Regions from separate parts of the Homo sapiens genome. Here region 1 is linked to region 2. The links come from fine-mapping of genetic effects on plasma protein levels. A gene starts in region 2. The other region holds a variant in brackets. All regions are shown on one strand. Distances are between the middles of the regions. Region 1 overlaps IL16 (interleukin 16). Region 2 holds the start of IL16 (interleukin 16).

Region 1 (8,333 bases), 110 kb after region 2:
GCCCTGTGCTGGGGAAATGAAGAATGCATGACACTAGGCCACTGGGCAGGTCCTGTCCACTCAGCACATCCCAGAGCCTGGGGCTGCGTGGAGAGGGTAGCAGGCCTGGCCATGGGCATCTTTTCCTGTGGGTCCCACTATTCTGGCTCATCCAATCTGATCAGCATTGGCTGCTGCCTTCAGGTCACCTGTACCTGACCCAGATGGTTTCTGGTTCTGCCAGTTTTGTGGAGCCATGCTGCGGCTGCTCGCTCTCTAAAGCCGAGTGCATTGCTGTCATCCCAGGGCTGTGTTGTCTCAGGGTATCCTTTGTGTAGGCTGTGCTGGGCTCATTTGAATTTCCATGCCCAACTGAAAACAAATCCTCCAGTTCACAGCATCAGCCAGCATTCAACATACCACACCCCCTTGCAGTGGCAATCTGGCATGTTCCTGCGTGTCACTTCAGAGTCAATCATGTCAGTGGTGACTTCCTTGATTTCCTGATAAGTTTTCTATCACATAAAAAACACTTAAAACCTGTAAGTCTCTATTTCTCTCACTGAGTGCAGCTGAGTATTACAAAAAGATTCCTGACCGTGTAGTTTACTTTCTACTTGAAGAGGAGGAAAGAGAGCTTGCCTGTGGGAATGGCACTTTGGGTATTTTTCTCTGTCCATGAGTAGCAACTTCTGTCCACGTCATCTGGCCAGTCACCCTTGAGACACTGCAGACAACAGGAAACTAGGAGGAAGGCGCACATGTTGGCTGAGCACATGCACAAAAGCTTCTTTCTCCTTCTGTGTTTGAGCATTTCTCTTCCTTTCCAGATGATTAAAAGGGAACTAACGTAGAGCACCATCCACGGCCATGCTGAGCACTCACTGACCTGTTGTCTAAATTCATCCTACCCACACTTTGGATTGATAAATTGGTGGCATTTATGCTTCTTTTATAGAGGAGGAACCTGAGGTTCCTCCTTTAATTAACTTTAATCTTCGTTGGCCTAAAAATCCTCTAGCATTGAGGAACCTGAGGCTCAGAGGAGAGGTTCTGCTTCATGCTTGGATGTTACAGCCTGGGGATTCTAACCATGTAACAGAATTTTTCTAACACCAAAACAATTTAGAGAAGCAAAGAGCTTTGCTCCTATCATAAAAGCAAAACTACAGGTACCACATTTTAGTGGTTTCCATGCATGCTATCACTCAGTCCTCTTAATTATAATGGACCTCATTAAAGAGGCTGAGGCAGAGACATGAGATATTTTTGTGTGTTTGTTTATCCCACATATCTTGCAGAAAGGGGACCAAGAGGTGACTGGAGGTAAAGAGTCAGAATTTCTAGGGGAGGAGCTATAAAAATGTCTAGACTGCCTAGGAGAGTGTTTCTCAAAATGCATTCTGCCAAATGAGACCGAGAATTTCTCTATGAGAAAAGAATTCTTTGTTGAAACACTTTGGGAATCCCCATAATACCCTGCCAATACTTAGAAATCTGCCATGCAGATTTGCATTGTAGACCCTCTAAATGCCTTTTGCTTAGAAATCTGCTGCCATGCAAATTTGCATTGTAGACCCTCTAATGCCTTTTGCTTTTTAAAAGTAGACAATGTCAGAGCTTTTGTTTCACCCAGTATTCCTCAAGTTTCTTTGATTTTAAAAAATTTTTCTTGGCCGGGTGTGGTGGCTCATACCTGTAATTCCAACACTGTGCGGGGCCAAGGTGAGAGGATTGCTTGAGCCCAGGAGTTTGAGACCATCCTGGGCAACACTGGGAGACCCTGTCTCTATTTTTTAAAAAATAATAGGAAAAGCCTTTTTCTTACACAATACCCGTTAATATGCCATAGAATCAGTGCCTTGAGAAAACTACTCTGGGGACTTCTGACCTAGGGCAGGTGAAGCAAAAGATTTTATATGGAATCCCAACTAGAATCGTGGTGGTACACTATAGGACGTTGTGTTGGGATGGATTCTGAGGGCTTACCTGGTCATTACTGCTGGTGATCTCTGCTCTGGATGGAGAAGGAGGGAATGCTGGCCTCTGTGCCAGCAGCTCCAATCTAGGACACAATTATCTTTAATCTTTGTTGGCCTAAAAATCCTCTAGCATTGACTAACCGGTTCAATCCTCCTCCAGCAAGTATGTGGACTGGACTTGTGTGATTTCTGGTCCTGACTTCCTTTGGTTTGCTCAGGTTCACAGAGTGTTTCCAAATGGGCTGGCCTCCCAGGAAGGGACTATTCAGAAGGGCAATGAGGTTCTTTCCATCAACGGCAAGTCTCTCAAGGGGACCACGCACCATGATGCCTTGGCCATCCTCCGCCAAGCTCGAGAGCCCAGGCAAGCTGTGATTGTCACAAGGAAGCTGACTCCAGAGGCCATGCCCGACCTCAACTCCTCCACTGACTCTGCAGCCTCAGCCTCTGCAGCCAGTGATGTTTCTGTAGAATCTAGTAAGTTCTCCCAACTCAGTGGAAGCCACATGGGCCACATCCTCTTTGGCCATTTGGGGCCAGACCTGATGGGGCTACTCAGTAATTTGTGACCCCAAGAATGTGTGGCTGCCTAGTACACTGCCTGAGACGTGTTTACATGTGCCTGTGTGCAAACACGGGGGCTGTATCACCCCGGGCTCACTTGAAGCCCAGGGCATCTGTGGCCTGGGAGAGGAGAGGATCCCTAACAGAGACCTTGTGTTTTTCTCAGCAGCAGAGGCCACAGTCTGCACGGTGACACTGGAGAAGATGTCGGCAGGGCTGGGCTTCAGCCTGGAAGGAGGGAAGGGCTCCCTACACGGAGACAAGCCTCTCACCATTAACAGGATTTTCAAAGGTGTGGGGTGTGTCTGGTTCTTTGCGTGCTCTCCAGTTGTGGGCATGTGGCCAGGCCCCCAAAAGGCTTCTGGGCACTTTCTGGGCTATGTTGTTTCCCACAACTCCATGTCCTCTTCATAGGCATGCTGGTCCTTTTAGGGCTCAATTCTGCTTTTTCTACTTTTTCTCCTTTGCTCAGACATCCCCTCAATCCCCCCTCTGTTTTGATGGGTCTTCAAAAATACCTAAGTCCTGGGCTTGGTTCGGGTTGGCAGGGCCAGGACTCTAGAGTGGGGCAGTGAGGCACTGGCCTGTGGGGCAGAATTTTAAAGGGGTGCCAAAACACTCAGTAACTCAGATCGATACTATTTTAATGCAGCGTGTTTTTTAAAATTAATTTTAAAAAAACATGTTGGACAAAATATCCAAGTTTAAATCAAGACAGAGTCTGACTTTGTACTGCACACTTGGCCTCATTTGCCTTACCCTAGTCCTGGACACGTCAGCTCCTGCCTTTATTTAAAATGTTGATAGATATTTTGTTCATCAGGGATTGGAGTACAAACCAGTCTGATATGGGGGTCACTTGGATTTCCCTGTGAAAATCATGAATGACTGTGGCTACCATGTAAAACCATCCCTGATTCTTTGGTGTTCCTCAAATTGGAGGTCTCCAAGCCACAGAGCAAGGGGTTGTAGAGAGAGGAGTACTGGACAGGGAGGCAGGTGGGCCAGGTTCTAGTCCCAGCTCTGCCTGTAATGTGCTGAGTGACCCTTCCCTTCTGGGCCTGAGGCTCTTCATCCATAAAAGGAGGTAAAGAGGTACAGGTGTGTGTCTGAGGGCTCTTAGGACTGAGACCCAAAGGGACTCTTAGCTCTGTCCCTCACCCACTATGAGCTCCTGCTGCTGACTGGTTTCGTTAGAGGAAGTTCTGCTGCGGCTGCAGAAACCCAGAAGGTAGAGTGAGGCTTACATGGCATTCCCCCCAGAATCCATGTTAACCCCAATTCTGGGAAAGATATTTCTAATTTTTGAAGGTCAATTTGGAAGGAGCATTGGGTTCAATGTCAAGAGGACTAGATTCCAGTGTTAGTTCTGCCACATGACCTTGGTAGCATGATCTTGGACAAGTCACTTCACCACCATGGGCCCATTTGCTTAAATGTTTAGGATGAGACTGCCAGCTGCAGGGTGATGTTGGAAGGAGAGATGCAGATTCTGGAGCCAGAAAGTCTGGGTTCCAGCCCAGGGCCCACCACTAGCAGCTATGAAGCTCTGGGCCAGTTACTTGAGTTCTTGGTTTCCTCAGCTGTTAAAAGGAAACACAAATAATACACCCCTCATAGGATTACTGTCATAAATGCAAAACATTAGCACAACGCCTGTTAAAATAATTGCCCAATACACTTTAGCTATATTTTCATTACTATCATTAGTATTATCTTCTACTCTTATCAGGATTTGTGAAGATCACTGTGTCAAATGGATGGGAAATTTTATTTTAATATAAACAGTAAAATAGCATTGTTTTCACTTGCAGCTTTGAAATAGTGGGGGCCATATATGGTTGTTTCCTTTTTTA[T/G]GTGGACACAGAGGACTTCGTGCCAGAGGCAAGATCCCTGTAAATATTGTTGCACAAAAATCTCACTAGCTCTCTTCCCATACCACCCAATGCTGATGTCCTCACCACATGCGGAGAACAAATGTGAAGGGAGTAGGATATTGGGTCAGTGTCCAAAGCAGGGTCTGGGCAGGACTCAGCTCCCCAGAGTCCTCTATGAACTATGGACGGTGCTCCAGGCAGGCTAAGGCGTGGAGCTGCCTGATATTTCCCTCCCCTGGGGACAGCAAGGGCTATCCCTTTCCAAAGGCCATGGAGAGCTGGAGCCTGGTGCCCTAACCTCTGAGTCACCATCTTAAGAGATGCCTCATTTTAGAACCACCAACAAGCAAGCTCCCAAGGGATGGTGCCCTGTTCTCTACCAAGCTATCCTGGCTCTTTGGAGATCAAGGAGAGGAGGCAACTTTCCTTGTTCCCCATCATCTGTGGAACCCATTACCTTCTCCCTCATTTCAGGAGCAGCCTCAGAACAAAGTGAGACAGTCCAGCCTGGAGATGAAATCTTACAGCTGGGTGGCACTGCCATGCAGGGCCTCACACGGTTTGAAGCCTGGAACATCATCAAGGCACTGCCTGATGGACCTGTCACGATTGTCATCAGGAGAAAAAGCCTCCAGTCCAAGGAAACCACAGCTGCTGGAGACTCCTAGGCAGGACATGCTGAAGCCAAAGCCAATAACACACAGCTAACACACAGCTCCCATAACCGCTGATTCTCAGGGTCTCTGCTGCCGCCCCACCCAGATGGGGGAAAGCACAGGTGGGCTTCCCAGTGGCTGCTGCCCAGGCCCAGACCTTCTAGGACGCCACCCAGCAAAAGGTTGTTCCTAAAATAAGGGCAGAGTCACACGGGGGCAGCTGATACAAATTGCAGACTGTGTAAAAAGAGAGCTTAATGATAATATTGTGGTGCCACAAATAAAATGGATTTATTAGAATTTCATATGACATTCATGCCTGGCTTCGCAAAATGTTTCAAGTACTGTAACTGTGTCATGATTCACCCCCAAACAGTGACATTTATTTTTCTCATGAATCTGCAATGTGGGCAGAGATTGGAATGGGCAGCTCATCTCTGTCCCACTTGGCATCAGCTGGCGTCATGCAAAGTCATGCAAAGGCTGGGACCACGTGAGATCATTCACTCATACATCTGGCCGTTGATGTTGGCTGGGAACTCACCTGGGGCTGCTGGCCTGAATGCTTATAGGTGGCCTCTCCTTGTGGCCTGGGCCTCCTCACAACATGGTGTCTGGATTCCCAGGATGAGCATCCCAGGATCGCAAGAGCCATGTAGAAGCTGCATCTTGTTTATACCTTTGCCTTGGAAGTTGCATGGCATCACCTCCACCATACTCCATCAGTTAGAGCTGACACAAACCTGCCTGGGTTTAAGGGGAGAGGAAATATTGCTGGGGTCATTTATGAAAAATACAGTTTGTCACATGAAACATTTGCAAAATTGTTTTTGGTTGGATTGGAGAAGTAATCCTAGGGAAGGGTGGTGGAGCCAGTAAACAGAGGAGTACAGGTGAAGCACCAAGCTCAAAGCGTGGACAGGTGTGCCGACAGAAGGAACCAGCGTGTATATGAGGGTATCAAATAAAATTGCTACTACTTACCTACCACATGCCAAGCACTGTGCTCAGGGCTAAACGGGCATTGCCTTTAGTGATCACAGCAGCTTCTACGGTGTATGGTTCTGTGCCAATGTATTGATAAGAGGGCACACACTGTGTACAGTAAATGGCTTATCCAGCTGGTGAGTGATGCGGCAGATTGAGTTTTCTTCTGTGATTCGGTGGAGACTATCAGCCCAAGATGCTTTAAGTGCACAACATTACAGGGAATGCCTGAGTGCCTGGCCAAAGGGATATTTGGTTTGGCCATCTCTGGATGCCTGATTGCCAAGCTCAGGACCAGGCAATGTGACTTTGCATCAGCAACAACCAGCATCCCTTGACCAGGCCTGGGCCAGAGTATTGGTCTCCTCTCAGCCCCTGATCCTGTGAAGTAAGGATGTGGGGGAAGACCTGGCAAGGACACAGATGAAACACAAACAATAGTAATTCTCAGGCCATCATCAGTGGAGCCATGTTAATGTAATCTGATGGCTTCTCCAGGGTCCACAGGAAGTGAAGAATCTGTTTCCCAGCAGTGGACTCAAAACCCATCTGGGCTCCTAACCTTCCTGTAAACCCCTTTAGTGGCTTCATTAGAGCAGGCGTTCAGCTCACTGTTCTATTCATCTCAAGGAATAATGGGCTTAGAGCAGTTTCTGTCCTGCTGGTTAACTTGTTTGGCCTATTCCATTCTGGATTTTGTCAAGCAGTAGACAAGCAATTAGACAAGAACTTGGAGGCACCATTTGTATCCACTTTTTAGACTTAATAGAAACATTGAAGATGAACATAATCTACCAACGAAAGACGTGATTCAATTCAACACTCCCTTCCCATGACCCAGGCTGGGCAAGGAGGCCACGTGATGTGGAGGGCACATTCCTTGCCTGCACAAACTCACCATCTGTGCACGCAGTGGCCTTCCCTAAAATCAGGGAATTGTTTTAAGTCTTATCAAGCAGCCAAGGGATGAAAGAGAAGGTGGGTTTTCATCAAGACTGGAAGGTGGGGACAGGGATGAGCATGGAGCTGGCCGTGGGCCTGGGGTACCAAGAGACTCCTTGAGAGACCAGGCAAAGCAAGTGATTGGGACAGAGGTTATCTGTCCCAGGTTATCTGGGCATAGATGCAGGTGAGCCCATGGCCCTCCCAGTACCTCCTGTCTCTGGCCTGTTTTAGAAGGTTCTCTCCTCCCCAAGGAGACACAACAACTCCTAGGGCCACTGAAGATATAACTATTGCCCAGGTTTCTGGTCTCTAGGCTGGGGAAGTCCTCTGGGTAGGAATCAGCAAGAAGATCCTAAAACAAAAGCTCATCCATTTGCGTTCCATGATGCTGGGATTTACACTTGAGGCTTAGCTTTGCTCTGCCAACTTCTTCAGAGCTGACACAGGATGAAGGCAATGCCATCCTCAAACACTGCAGGCATCACAGCTAACAATTGTGAAGTCGTCTTAACTCACCATAAAAAGGAATCCACTCCCAGGCAGCCCTACTTCTTTGCTTTGCCCAGCATTTTACTGATTCATACATTATCTCACTTGTGCCAACACTCAAGAAGCAGGCTACACTGACACTGGTATTCCTGCCTCCATATTTTCTTTAAAAGACAAATCAAAGCAGATATATTAAGTGACTGTTCAAGAGCACACTTGGCCCAAGTGGCAGAGCTTGGACTGGATGCATGTTTTCCAGCTCCTCATCCAGGGCTCTGACCAGTTTAACCTGATGCAGTCACGTGGAGGAGCAGTGCAGGCACAGTATGTCCCATAGGCCCAGTGAGATGCATTCTTGGTTGGCTGGCCTTCCACTTGGCTACACAGGGATGTACAAGGCGATCCCATCTTGATAAGACCACCACCTCAGAGTATGGAGCTCAGAGAGGGCAGGCATGAAGTTTCCTTGGCTGGTGCACCTAGAATTGGCTGAACTCATGAGAAGTTGATATAGAACAGTGCTTGCCACAGAGCGGGGACTCGGTAAGCACTTAATGAATGAATGAATTCTAAGTCAATCCAAGAGTCTGATGATTTCTTGAAAAGGGTGTTAGCTAAAGGATCTTAGGCATGACTGTAGAATTTGTAGTTGCAATAGAACAGAGAAAGAGGAAGCTTTCTGTCTCCTTAACACTGAGCTGTCATGTTTTAAAGCTTGCTCACATCTTGGCACATTTAAGAGACAGTCACCCCAGGACTCAAAAATAGGGAAGTAACAGTAACGCAGGGGAAACGTTTTCTGTTTGGAGGAGCAAAGGCTGAGAACACTGTGAAAACATTTTGCGCGCACAATA
Region 2 (8,321 bases):
AACCAAGTGATTCTTCTTGTCATAACCGGAGGGTCATGAATGCTCTTGGAACTAAACTCTCTTCCCTTGGAGAGAACATTCTGTTTCCTAATCTGTGGCTTCTAGGAGCTAAGAGAGATACTGTGAATATGTTTTTTAAGTTCCATTTAAACCTGGGCCTAATCACATAAATTACGCTAAGGAAATGTCTGGAAGAGCTCTTTGTAAACTGAAAACTACAAACAAATGTAGAAACTCATTACATGGCATTAGTCATTTATTCATTCATTTATGCATTGATTCACTCAGTAAATGTTTATCAACCCTTTATGGGCCAGGCATGCTCTAGTGCTGGGGACCCCACAGTGAACAGGCTGATGAGGTCCCTGTGTGGGACCTAGATGGGGCGGATGGGTGGTATGTAAGTACCCAAGCAGACTAACAAGACAGCTTCAAATGCTGGCAAGTTCTATGAAGAAAATAAAATAAGGAGAGGTAACGGTGAGTGCCTGGTTTAGGTTGAGTGGTCAAGAAAGATCCCACTTAGGAGATGGAGTCAGGGAAGAGCCAGCCATATGAAGATCTGGAAGTGGAACTTTCCTGTAAGAGAAAACAGCTAGGGCAGAAGTCTTAGGGTGACAAGGGCATGGCTTATTCAAGAAAGAGCCAGAAGGCCAGGGTGGCTGTGGGATGCAGCGAGCAGGAGAGGCAGAGGTGGAAGCTGGAGTTTGGGAGATAAACAAGGGTGAGATCATTTAGCTCCTTTGGGACACTGTAAGGAATTTGGGTATTATTTTGGAAAACAACGCAAAGCCTTTGGAAGGGGTGGAGCACAGGGCATTTTTGGGGCAGTAAATATATCTCTCTGTCTGATACTACAGTGGTAGATCCATAACGCTATGCACTTGTCAGAACCCATAGAACTGCACAACACAATGGGTGAACCATCACGTAAGCCATGAACTTTAGCTAATAATCATGTATCAGTATTGATTTATCAATTGTAAAAAGGTACCACGCCAATGCAAGATGTTAATAGTATGGGAAATTGTGTGTGTGGAGAGGGAGATCAGTATTCGGGAGTTCTGTACTTTCTATGCAATATTTCTGTAAAGCTAAAACTGCTCAGAACAATAAAGTTTATTAAATTTTTAAAAAAGTGGTTGGGTGCAGTGGCTCATGCCTATAATCCCAGCACTTTGGGAGGCCAAGGAAGGAGGACTGCTTGAGGCCAGGAGTTCAAGACCAGCCTGGGCAACACAGAGAGACCGTGTCTCTACAAAAAAAAAGAAAAAAGAAAAAATAGCCAAATGTGGTGGCATGTGCTTGTTGTCCTAGCTACTCGGGAGGCTGAGGCTGGAGGATTGCTTGAGCCAGGAGTTTAAGGCTGCAGTTAGCTATGATCATACCACTACCCTGCAGCCTGGGCCACAGAGCAAGATGCTGTCTCAAAAACAAACAAACAAACAAAAAACAGTTTTTAAAAGTAATTCAAAGCCCTTGCAAATTTTATGCTGATCCAATTTATATTTTCAAAAAGCCTACCTGCTATTATGTGAAAAATGGATTATGAAGGTCTGCATAGGAACCAGAATCCCAGTTAGAAGGTGAAAGCTATAATCAGACAAGAGGCACTGGTAAGAGGAGGGTGGCGGCAGTGAAGATGGAGAGAAGCGGAAAGAAAGTGGGATAGCTTCTGGGGATAGAGCCAACGAGAATCACTGATAAATTGGATGTGATGTGGAAGGTTAGAGAGATGGAGGGATCAAGATGAATAAAAACTCACAGAGGGCTTATTCTGGCAGGCACTGTTCTAAGAACCTTACAAGTATTACCATATTTAGCCCAAACAAACCTTGTGAGGTGGATGTTAGTGCACTAGCCAGCCTATAGATGACAAAACCAGTCCACAGAGAAGTGCCTTTTTGCCTGCCTATGATCATGCACTTGGGCAGGGACAGACCTGCGAGATGAACCCAGGAATTTTGGCTTCAGAGCCTGTGCTATGTTCTTCCCACCTTGATACTGAGGATTTTGGCTTGGGAAATTGATGGATGCTAGTGACAATTACCAAAATGTGGAAGTTTAGGGAAGAAACATTTTATTAGGGGGGGAATCAAGAGTACTGTTGGCAGTGTTCCTTTTTTTTGCCTCACTGAATAACAGCCAGGCAATGTTACTTTTGAAATTTAAGTTAAACCCCAGCTGAAGATGTTAAGCAAGTGGTAGGAAAAAAGAGTCAGAATTCAAGGAGAAGTCCAGGCCTGGAGAAGTGAATTTGGGAGTTGTTGGCATGTGCGTGGTATATTTGCTTGTGGACTGGCTTCAGTTGCTTGTCGTGATTGTAAGTATCTTAGTGATGGAATATTACTTTGAAAGGATGCAAGCCTGATGGACAGTTTGAAAGAAAAAAAGGCCAGAGAGAGGGCAGCATGGTCTACATGGAAGTCAGCTAGAATTTTCGTATGAAGTTAAAACCCTTGGTTTGAATCTATATGTTGCTGTGGGCCAGGGAAAGAGGGGAAGAGAGCCGGGGAGCGGGAATCAAGGGACCAATGGCTTCTGACTGCACAGCCTTGGACGTGCACTTTTTGGACATGTAACTTCTCTGAGTCTCAGTGTTTGCATCCGTAAGTGGGGACGTACAATAAAATCATCAAGTTTTGGCCTCAACATTCTGTCTAAGTTGAAAGTGCTAAATGCAGAGAGAATTTATTATCATCATGTCCATTACTGTCAGGTTACATTACTAGTAACATTACATTACTAGTTAAAATTGTTACATTACTAGTTAAAATTGTTAAATTATATTCTGCGTCATGTTACATTACTAGTTAAAATTGTTACATTACTAGTTAAAATTGTTAAATTATATTCTGCTCATGATAATACAGTTCGCATGACCAAAAGTGTACAGCATAAAGAATTCCCAAGGCATTTTATAGATTGCAGGACAGCTCTTTGCTCAGACCTCTGAGCAGCCCTGTCAGATTATTGGGTTATTGTTTCCATTTTGTGGACATGGAAACTGAGACTCAGTAAGGTAAAAGGACTTGCAGTTGACAGAGCCGCTTAGTACAGAAGCTGGGGCTTATTGCTCTGACCCTAAGCTCTTTATTTTGCCATTGTTTGAACAGAATAGGAGATGACCCTGTTGTGTCATTTTAAGGACACACTTTCTTTTTGCCTTCTGAATATGTTTACTTGCCACAACAAACATGTATTACTTTTATAACTAAAATTTTGAAATTAAAAATTTTTGTAATTTTAATTTTTTAAATTAAATTTAAATTTGTAATTGTAATTTTAATTTTTAAAAATTAAATTAGAATTTTTAAAATTAAAATTTTTTAAATTAATTTTTCAAAATTTATAATTTTAATTTTGTAATTAAAATTTTTGTAATTAAAAATTTACTTTTGGAAATAAAATTTTGTAATTAAAAAATAGGAGAATTAGAAGGAAATACAGGTTATTGATTATGAAACTTTAGCAAGCATCAGAATCACTTGTTGAACAGATTTCTCAGTTCCGTGGGCTGGAAGGGCCAAAAAGGTGAGCAGGCTTCTGCTTGGTTAGCTGTTGGCAGCATGCTTCCTCCTCTATTGCCTCATTCTCTCAGTAACACTGTGCAGTAGAAGTTTCTAATTTCATCTGGCAGACAATTAATTTCATCTAATTTTCATCGTAGCAAACTAAGGCTGTGAATGACCAAGATCACACAGGAAGCTCTTGGTTGAGCTTCAAGTGGTGCTTGAACTTCCTAGTTCTAACCAGGGCGGGGCTCTCTCACCTGCGTCTTCCTCCCCGTCTCTTCTGGCTTGCAGTGAGCTGGACTATGGAGTGTTGGGCAGGGTGGAGACTCTTTCTGCAGGATGTCCTGAAGGGCAGAGGGGTGATAAAATTTCCACCTTGAAGCACAAACCACCCCGTATTAGGAAAAATCAGGGCCAAGTCTCAACTACACTTTGGAATAAATTTACCTTCTGAGAGTGAGAAAGAACAGATCTTCGGAAAATAGAGGGAGAGGCGGGAACTGGATTCAGGTGCCGATGACAAGAGAGAGCTTAGACTTAGTGGAGGAGGGGGGCTGTGGGGCCCTCCCAGGCCTCAGGATCCAAGAAGGGCAAGGCCAGCCCCCATAGCCCTGGGGTGCTGAATTGCTCCTCAGCCTCTCTGCCAGAGCAAGATGGAAGTGGGGCCTGAGTCTGTCCTGGCCCCACCGCACCCAGGCCATTGTGAGAGAGATTGTGGGTGTGAGCTGAGCAGGCGACACTGACAGAGGCGCTCACTCTCTGCAATTTAGAAATTCCTTCACTGCACTCCAGACTCACTCCAGACTCAGCCCTACAATGTCCCCTGTGCCTGCTGACAAAGGCAGCTTTATCCCCAGAGTGCTCCCTCCTCCCGTGCTTCCCTTGGGACCGTGGGCCTGTGTTCTCCAGCAGCAGCGGCTAGATCTTTGCAGCCTTGCATGGAATTTCAAGGGCTTCCTACAGGTTGCACCTACACCCTCATTAAAGCCCCCAGGAAGCCCTGAAACATTTGGTGCTGAGCGTTGGGAAACATTCCATTCTTTAGAAGAGAGGTCCATACAAAAACCTCAGCCTAGCATGTACACAGGGCTCACAGAGACTGAGCTTAGGAGAGATGTGTGGGATGCTCTTTGCGGGGCAGATGGATTAAATGCCACCTTATGATTAGATTCTCCAAGGGGCTACGTGGGGGAAAGGCACTCTGGTCTCATGACACTAATGCCAACAGGACACACACAAAAGTGCCCCATTCTTTTATGCTGCAGTTTTCAACATGCTCTGTATACGTTAGGTCATGGGCTCTCGCACCTGAGCACGCACCAAAATCACCTGGAGGCTTTGTGAAAACAGAGTGCCAGAGGTGCTGCTTCAGGAGGTCTAGGCCAGGGCCTGAGAACTTGCATTTCTAGCAGATGCTGCTGATGCAGCTGGCTTGAGGACCACTGAGTTACATAAGCTTCTGAGAGCCAGTCTGTTGTTTTTGGGAAAGGGTGGCACAGACAAGAAATGAAATGCTATGGAAAAAGCCTGGGCTTTGGAGACAGGTGGATTTTGACTTGCTAACTTGCTAACTGTGTGACCTTGGGGAAATTCCACGGCACGTAGTAGGTGTTTAATGAACGTTTGTGCAGTGGCTTTCTTTGTCTGCAAAGCAGGTGATATATTTACCAGATTGATGGCAGGATTGTATGTGATGACTTTTTTCCTCTTTTTATTAAATTTTTATATAATTTGAGAGGAGTTCTTGCTATGGTTTGCCCGGGCTTGTCTTGAATCCCCCGGCTCAAGTGATCCTTCTGCCTCAGCCTCCTGAGTAGCTGGGATTATAGGCACGTGCCACAGCTTCCAGCATGTGATGAGGTTTATAGAAAGCTCCTAGCAGCGTGCCAGGCACATTGCAGGCACCGAGTCATGTCTGCTACCTTTCGGCTCTCCTAGTCATTTCTGTGTTGTCCAAAGAAGGCAGGGGCAACTGGGCTGGACCAAGGAACCTCACTGTGGTTCTGTGGCTCTGCACTGGGTTTGCCTCCTGGGTGTTGCCGGCCAGCCCAGCAGATGGTGGACCTTGTTCTGAGGCTGAGCTTCTCAGCACTGGCAGCCCCCCTTTTTGGATCAAGCCTTTTCACGTGGAGCAGTCAGATGGCTCAGATCAGGAGTCTTCGAGCAAATCCATGCCAGGTGGGACACATTTGTCCTGAGTCACCTGTCCAGAGCAGGTGGTGAATATTGTGTCCTACTCACGGCATCTCAACTATCGGAGCCTGGGATCTGACTCAAAGGCCGGCCTCCGTCTGAGAACTGAGCGTCCATTTCTCAATCCTTGCCGGCTCTGACCCAGGCCTGGGCCACAGGCTGTCCGGGAATAAGTGGTGCTGCAATCCCTGCTGGGCAGATGGAGAGAGGAGCAAGGGAGATGGCAGCCCCGGGGGACTGTGCATAGGGAGGTAGGTGGGCACCAGGTGAGTGAATGTCTGTCAGGCAGCTGCTCTGTCCAGGTGGCCGTTACCGGAGGGAGGAAGCTGGCCTCTCTGACCTGAATGGGGAGGGTCTTGGTTGCTAGGACGTAACTTCATATTTGGAAGTGGTGCTGGGGTCAGGGGCAGGAGCAGAAGCCAGGATTGTGTTGGTAGGAATCTCTGTGTCACCATGTCACAGTTAGGTACAGGAGGAAGCAGCTTCAGAAGGCCAGAGCGGGCAGAGGGATATCGCTTGACCTGGCTCTGCAGCACGGGGAGAATTTGGTCCTGAGATTTCTGACTTTTCAGCCTCGTCTCATCCTTGGCAATGGGGTGTGGAAGGAGGTGGAGGAAAGGAAGGCAGCAGGAGAGAGAAAGGCCACGGGGCACCTGATGGGGGCTTCTCTGCTGCCTGGCCAGACTCCTTTTCTCCAAAGTGGGCACAGCGGGTGGGCATCTCTGCAGATTGACCATGGGAAAAGTGTTCACTCTGCTTGCTTTTTGATAAGGGTCCCGTGACTAATTCCTGCATTGGTAGGTCCCAGGATTGGTGTTTTTTTGTTTTTGTTTTTTGTTTGTTTGTTTTTTTCTTTTTTGGTCCATAGCAAGTTTGCTTTCTGTAGCTGGAGAATGAGGTAACAGCATAAGAATAGAGGTTCCCTGTGGAATACAGGGAAGCATCTTCTCCTCCTGCCCTTATCAGGTGAAATCCTCCCACTTCAGGCTGAGCCATACAAAGACGACCCCTTTGTCCCAGGAGGCCAGTTCAAGCTCCCACTGGGTTCCTGGAAGCAGCCTGGGAGCTGCCGTCTCTGTGGCTCCCCTTCCTATTTCTCCAGTTTCCCCCGGAAGGAGAAGACCGTTCAGCCTTTTTCCTCCTCTGTTCTCCTTCTTTACCCTGAAGTTAAGTGATGGTCAACATTTACGAGCACAGTAGAAGGCACCTCCCCTGCTGCAGATATGACGTGGGCATGAGCCGTCAGGTGGGTCAGACCCTTGAAGCCTCTACTGCTCATTTATTCAATCCCCAGTGAGTCTTTTAAATAAAACTTAGTACCCCAACCATTTCCTGGCCACTCTTCAAGCCCCAGGCACCAAGCTAAAATATTCACATACCTCATTTAATTTAAACCTTACAACAACCTGGAGCTTAGGGAGTATATCCCCAAACCGAGAGGTGAGGAGGCTTGCACAGGACCACTCAGCTAGACGTTCCCAGGACCCAAACCCAGCTTGACTCCAAAATCCATGCTCTCACTGGCTTTGTGGCATGCCTCAATAAATACTTGAGTTTCCTCAACACAAAGATGGTCATATATCCATAGGGTTAAAAAATAATCTCTGTTGGATGCAATTGACTATAGAATTATTATTTTCTAATTGTTTGTATTCATGGAAACCTTTTTAGAATTAAAATCTATCATGAAAACTCATGTATAATCAGTTAAGGCAGAATTATTTTGGCAGAGGCAGACCAGGACCTTGAGACCTGCCCTTTTGTCAACCCCTCCCCCTTTCTGGTTCCCAGCAGTGGCCCAGGGGTATAGGAGTGAGAGGGAGGGAGGTACACTTTGAATTGAAATCTACTGGCCAGGTACAGTGGCTCACGCCTGTAATCCCAGCAATTTGAGAGGCCGAGGCGGGCGGATCACTTGAGGTCAGGAGTTCCTGACCAGGCTGGCCAACATGGTGAAACCCTGTTTCTACTAAAAATACAAAAATTAGCCAGGCGTGGAGGCACATGCCTGTAATCCCAGCTACTCAAGAGGCTGAGGCAGGAGAATTGCTTGAACCCGGGAGGCGGAGACTGCAGTGAGCCGAGATCATGCCACTGCACTCCAGCCTGGGTGACAGAGGGAGACTCCATCTCAAAAAAAAAAAATATATATATATATATATATATATATATATAAAATACATATTTTTTATTGTGCATTTGAATTGGTAATACATTTTCATATATAGGTTACGTTTTGCTATTAAAAAGCAATTCATTGTGAATAGCAATATGCTCATAAACACGGGGAGAAAATAGGCATGGGGCAAAATAAACAAATAGTTCCAAGAACTTGGAGTTGTGGTTAACTAGGAAGGCAGCTTGAAATCAGGAATTTACTTCAAGTTCTTCTTTTGAATTCCTGTTGAAATAAGGACGAATCTATGTCAGTCTTGTAAACTAGACAGTGTTGCTCAGTGTGTGCCAGAAACACTGAGAAGTCTCAGTGGATGTCTCAGGTGGATGTGAAGGACGTTGGGTGGAAGGGCGGAGCCCATCAGGAGGGAGGCGCTGTTCTTGCCACATCTGGAGATGCTGGAGGAGAGGTTTGCTTTGAGTGGGAGCAACTGGTAA

Evidence for each region. A credible set is the group of variants that fine-mapping cannot tell apart. PIP is the chance, under the fine-mapping model, that this variant and not a neighbour inherited with it causes the effect. Protein levels are from the aptamer-based SomaScan assay of Sun 2018.
Region 1: its variant is the best candidate, but not a certain one, in a credible set for the plasma level of the IL16 protein (Sun 2018, PIP 0.84).

What each region holds. Positions count from the first base shown.
Region 1 is chr15:81,303,729-81,312,061 of GRCh38, forward strand. IL16 (interleukin 16) reads left to right here. Exons shown (of 19, transcript NM_172217.5): 17 at 2,180-2,438; 18 at 2,692-2,817; 19 at 4,877-8,333. The coding sequence ends at 5,070. It overlaps STARD5 (StAR related lipid transfer domain containing 5), which reads right to left. Exons shown (of 6, transcript NM_181900.3): 6 at 5,325-8,333. Among named protein-coding and RNA genes, the nearest start is that of STARD5, 16 kb to the right of the region's middle. RefSeq lists enhancers at 1-708, 93-623 and a silencer at 4,826-5,003. The variant T/G (reference allele first, on the strand shown) is at 4,382.
Region 2 is chr15:81,191,179-81,199,499 of GRCh38, forward strand. It overlaps IL16 (interleukin 16), which reads left to right and starts at 5,701. Exons shown (of 19, transcript NM_172217.5): 1 at 5,701-5,974.